Linked DNA regions of Homo sapiens: region 2 is linked to region 1. The links come from fine-mapping of genetic effects on gene expression. Tissue or cell type: whole blood. Region 1 holds a variant in brackets; the other region holds the start of a gene. All regions are shown on one strand. Distances are from middle to middle.

Region 1 (2,765 bases):
GGGTTTGACATTGGAGGATAGATGTGCCATCAACTTTAAATAGAGTTTCCATCTTTTGTCAGCTCTGCATGTCATACAGCAAGATGGAACACAGGTTGCAAGAAAGAACCAACGTTATTCCTGACATTCTATTGATGTGTTTTGAGCAGCAATGTGTAACCAGGTGTTTCTGCTTCTAATCTTGATTCTGCTGATGACCATTTTTATACTTTATGGCAAAGCCTCATTGCCTCAGTTTCCTGTCTGGAAAATGAGTTCATCATCTACCTCTTGGGCAATTGAGAGTTTTCATTTTGTGTCTTTTAAACATCTGGAAAATGGAAAACACTGAGGGCTAAGGATAATGATATTGTTTAATGTAATTTGTCATCAGACCGGCCTCCTGCTCACTATTTCTTTTTTTTTAGATGCTGTTTTTTTAGAATATTAAATTAAAGGAGTGCTGTTAATATGTAATCTTCAACTAGTTCCATGGAGGAAAGTGATGTTTTATGAATTAGAGCTTAAATTCCTATCTAATTTCTGAAGACTGCATTCTTTTCAAAGACTTGAAATTAAACTCAGGAGGATACATTTTGTTTGTTCTAGGGGGAAACGTAATAGAATGGTATGAGATGAATTCTATCCTTTTACAATAATTATTACTATAATATTGAAGTATTCTATGCCTTTCTGAAACACTTTATTCAGAAAAGATCATTTTTTGGCTTCCTTTTAAAAATAAGCTTGAAGTAGGGAAGCATTTGCTTCTTAGATTTTAAATGTAGTCTTATTATGCTGAGGAAAATCTTTAGTTGAAAGAATAATTCATTACAGATTTTTGATGAAGGGAAGAAATTAATTATGTTGCTGGAAGACTGTCTACAAATAATCAAAATATTTAAATGTAATGTATTCAAGTTGTTATTAAAAAGTTACTGAATGTTATCTGAAGATGTGAAATGTGTAGTCAAGTAAAAAGTTGGCGTATACTTTCTTGGGCTGCATATCCAATTTAATTAAAAAATTAAATCTCAGTTTCCTTCTAAATTTTGATAGAACTATATTAAAAGCTTGTATACACAGCATTCTAGGAAATTTCTCTTAACTATCTTTTTTTTGTTTTTTTTGTTTTTTTTTTTTTTTTTTGAGAAAGAGTCTTGCTCTCTTGCCCAGTGCAGTGGTGCCATCTTGGCTCACTGCAACCTCCACCTC[C/T]GGGTTCAAGCAATTCTCCTGCTTCAGCCTCCTGAGTAGCTAGGATTACAGGCATGCCTACCTAATATTTACATTTTTAGTAGAAACCAGGTTTCACCATGTTGGCCAGGCTGGGCCTCAGCCTCCCAAAGTGCCAGGATTACAGGTATGAGCCACCATAGCCGGCCTCTTGTATCCTTTTTGTCCAATTTCAAATAATGTGTGAATCTTGCCTAACTGCTGTTGCCCACGTTGAAGCTAAAGAGTAAAAACCTATTCATGAACAAAGAAGGCAGGTGAGACCCGGTAACAAACTGTCTCTCTTCCCACTTTCTCTTTCTTATTAATTTGGCAGGATCTCCCTTCCCATTTTGTCAACATGGTTGAATTTGTGTGTTGGGGTTGTTAGGGCATGGGAATTCCTGGTTTGCTTTCTCTATTGCATGCTTGTTCATGTTAACTCTTTGGGGAGCAGAATGAGATACATATGCATCCATGGTTATGATGGAAAAAAGCATGCAAAATCCATTTTTAGAGAGAGAGAGAAAGAGAAAGGTGGGGGTGGGGGAGCACAAAGATCAGAAGAGTACTATGCTGATATTCAAGATATAGTACAGATAGCTTTCTGTGTACCTATCCATCTACCTATTCATCTGGGCTATTGATTGACTCCCACAGCAGTAAAGAATAATTACGCAGTTATTCTTCTGGTTATGTTTTAATTTCAAAAAGTTAAGTGTGATTTTCCTTTTTGCTGGGATTTCTGTCTTGAGCAAATAATTATTCTTATGAAAGTATCAATTGCAGTTACTGGTTAAAAATGTAAGACCTAGGAAATTTAAGTGTTGTTTCTATTTTAAGGTATATACATAATTTATAACCATTTACTTCTAGAGAAAATCCTGAATGGTTAGTAATATCAAAACATTTTCAACAAGAAAACTAAAATGAAAAGAAAGTTTAAAAATTACATGTGTTACAGCTCTTTTAGAATTTGTCTAGCAGGTTTTCTGGTGAAAATTAAACTCAAGATTTTCACCAGAAAACGTTTTAAAACTTCTAAACTCTTAAACAAATTATAAATACTTGATACTTTGAAGAACTGCAAAACAAAATGTTTTTAAGTTTTCATAAGGCAAAATCATTGAGTTTTCCAGCTTTGATTTTCCAATAAAAGGATGTATAAATATTTGGTGGTAGTTTTTCACACTCAATTCCAAGAGAAATTTACTGTAGGAATCTGTACATTTGAATCTCTGAATATTCTATGATATTTAAAATATTTGAACAAGATGCAGAAAATTTTTTAGCTATATTAATCAATAATGGTAACCTCTATCACTCATAATCAAGACACATACTTAAAATAGATGACTACAAGACCCTTCTAACTGCTTTGCTCAAATTTAAATTTCCTCAAGTAGTTCATAGACCCTTTACAACCTGGCCTCCCCTCTCTGGCCTCGGTTTGATCCCCTCCTATTACCCCCAACCCCTAGTAAAGTGACATTTAACTTCAGGGTTTTAACATATCATGCTCTTCTCTCCAGCCCTTTCTTCCTATAACTCTCTTACTATCTTCACCACCCTAT
Region 2 (2,765 bases), 220 kb before region 1:
TCCTGCCTGCCAGAGAACAACCCCCCTTTTTCCTTTACTTACCCAAATCCCATAAAACGGCCCCACCCCTATCTCCTTTCGCTGACTCTCTTCTCAGACTCAGCCCACCTGCACCCAGGTGAAATAAACAGCTTTATTGCTCACACAAAGCCTGTTTGGTGGTCTCTTCACACAGATGCAAGTGAAAGAAGGAGCCTGCCTGCAACCTTCCAGGTCAGTTACCTCTTTGCAAGCTCTCCAGCCCTGCCATAAAATGAAACCATTTGCAATAGTTGCTACATCATAGCTTGCTCGGCATCTGCTTTCCTGAGCTCGCTCCAATTGTTCCCTTCATGGGGTCAGGTGAAGTTCGTGTTGCATAGGGACTAGGATCTAGGTATGGTTTCCATCTCACTGGGGCAGCAGGCAGATGCTGAGCGCAGAGGACATGGGTGGTGGCTACACAGCTGCAGAGCAGCCATGACATGCTCTTGGAAACAAAAATAATTGAACACTGAAGTATGTGTAAAAGTACTTTTCCCCTTTGAATCAAGAATATGATCATGAACCTTAGCAAAACAAAGCAATGGAGCTGACTCAGTCTTCTAAACATTGGCCCTGAACCTGAACCTACTATTAAATTGGGCTAAAAGGTTTACAGAGCAAGTGGATTCATTAAAACTGTTTTTTGCTATATTCTCTGTTGTGGCTTTGTCCCAGAGATTTCCAATGCTTCCAGCAGCTTTGGAGTTAGTAACTCTGATATGTTTGCATCTGACTTCTGACCTAAACTTTAGTGTTATTTTCAGCTGTTCTTTGACAGGGAATCCAACAGCTGCTGTTTAATACCACAGACAACTTGTGACACAGGCTGAGTTTCTAGCAATAGGATTAATCTACCAATGTGGGGCACTGATTTGAAGCTGGCTATAATTTTCCTGAACAGGAGGTGGGGGTAGGGAATAAAAAGCCTGAAGCACAGTACTTTCCTTTTTGTTTTTGTTTTTAATTGCAGCAAAATATATGTCTTAATAACTTTTAACCACACAGAAAACATTTTCTTGCTGCAATTAAAAGGTAACAGCAAAGTATTTTGCTTTCTCATGGTATTAATAACTGAACTTGAAAACCTTGTCCAATGGAGCAGAATAGTCACAAAGAAAATCTGAAATGATAGGCACCTATTTATAAATGCTGGTTGAAATATTTTTTAAAAATTCCTAAGAAATCTGAGGCTCTGAGAAAATGTGGCTATTCCATCTAAACTTCATTTAGCAAAGAACAGTAAGTTTTAGAAAAGCAGATTAATCTAAAAATGTGTTTTAAGCAATTTGTGACTTAACCCCAAGACAAATACCAAAACTTTTTTAAAGTACACTTTGGTAGTTCTCTTTGCATCAGAGAGATTTCAAAAATCTTGAAAAGATTGATAACCAGGTCAAAGACTTACTTGTTTCAAAGTCCATGGTTACAATGGCATAGTTTCGGTGGCAAAACTAATTTGGGTTGTCAGGATGTAATTTTTTTTTCCATTTGTTATCAAACATCAGCTGATAAGGAAAGAGCTTGAAGCTGTCCTCCACATTTAAGATAACAGCAAAAATAACAGGCACTTAGTGTCACCATACTAGGGGCGTGGCAATTCTCTCTCGTTCGCTCCTTTCTCTCTCACGATAAACTCAATGGGGTTGTCTATTTTTAACCTCCTGTTCTTTCCTTTTGGCAGAGTAATCAGTGTGAGCTGAGCTCTTTCCCTGAATGAATCCAAGTAACCCTGGCCTTCTGAAATGACCAGCAGACACACAACTGTCCAGAGGCTGCCCAAAGTATAAACTCTGGTTCTAAAGTACCATGTCCAGCCAAGGAAGTCCTAGTGTTGCGCTTTCTACGACGACAGTCAGTTCAGTTGCTGTGCAGGCTGGGGACTCCAAAATCGTTATAGCTGTCATAAAGGTAAGCTAACAACTTCCTTTTTTCTGTGCGGCTGTGGGCTTCTAGCTGTGTGTTGAAAACCCTAAAGAACATTCCATGCAATCGGCAGGACACAGCATAGAGAAGACAACGCAGCAAGCACTCTTACTGCTTTCTAAAATGGGCTACTAAGAGAAACCTCTACAAGTTTCAGCAGTTACCAGAGATTCTCTTTCCTTTCAGTCAGCCAGAAAGCATCTATAGCAGCTTGATTTAAAAAAAAAAAAAAAAAGAAAAGAAAGAAAAATAAAGAAAAGAAAACCTCTAGCATATACTGTCAATTTGGTCTTTAAAAGCAAGGCATTGGTAACTGGAAGTTCATGATTGCCTGACTAAAGAGTCCAATGGACCTGTGGAATGCTTGTGATTTTTGAGAGTGGATGTGATGGAGGTGGGAGGAGGCAGGTCCCGACAGACAGGGGGAGGGCACTGCTTTAAGCACGATGGAACTCAGAAAACACCAAGTAAAGGGCTCCGACATGTGCCCTTTGCCACACTGGTTTTGACATGGTAAAGAAACTACTAAATCCTTGTCCAGTAACGAAGACCATGCAAGGAAAGGTACAAAAGCTTTGTGTCAAATTTGCTCTTAACAGCAGGAAGTAGAAGCCACTTAGGGTTTACAATTACTGCATGTTTTATGACAACCCATTTGCCCATTTGCAAAGATGACCACACATCTTTAGGCTGAAGAAGAACTCCATGATTTTATTCTCCATGGAAATGCCCTGTAAAAAAAAGCTTTCAAGCACTAGGCTTGGGCTTTAGATGATATTCCACCTAAATAATTCAGTGTTTAATGAAGGGAAAGCTGG

What was found. PIP is the estimated chance that this variant, and not a neighbour inherited with it, causes the effect.
Region 2: CCDC141 starts here. The variant in region 1 is fine-mapped to the expression of CCDC141 in whole blood (TOPMed, PIP above 0.99). The same link has a PIP of 0.9 or more in blood mononuclear cells.

The regions. Positions count from the first base shown.
Region 1 is chr2:178,830,829-178,833,593 of GRCh38, reverse strand. CCDC141 (coiled-coil domain containing 141) reads left to right here. Exons shown (of 24, transcript NM_173648.4): 24 at 1-2,765. It also overlaps the pseudogene RNU7-104P. Among named protein-coding and RNA genes, the nearest start is that of TTN, 25 kb to the right of the region's middle. The variant C/T (reference allele first, on the strand shown) is at 1,195.
Region 2 is chr2:179,049,007-179,051,771 of GRCh38, reverse strand. CCDC141 (coiled-coil domain containing 141) reads left to right here and starts at 1,635. Exons shown (of 24, transcript NM_173648.4): 1 at 1,635-1,932. The coding sequence starts at 1,831. RefSeq lists enhancers at 1,559-1,638, 1,649-1,898, 2,089-2,138.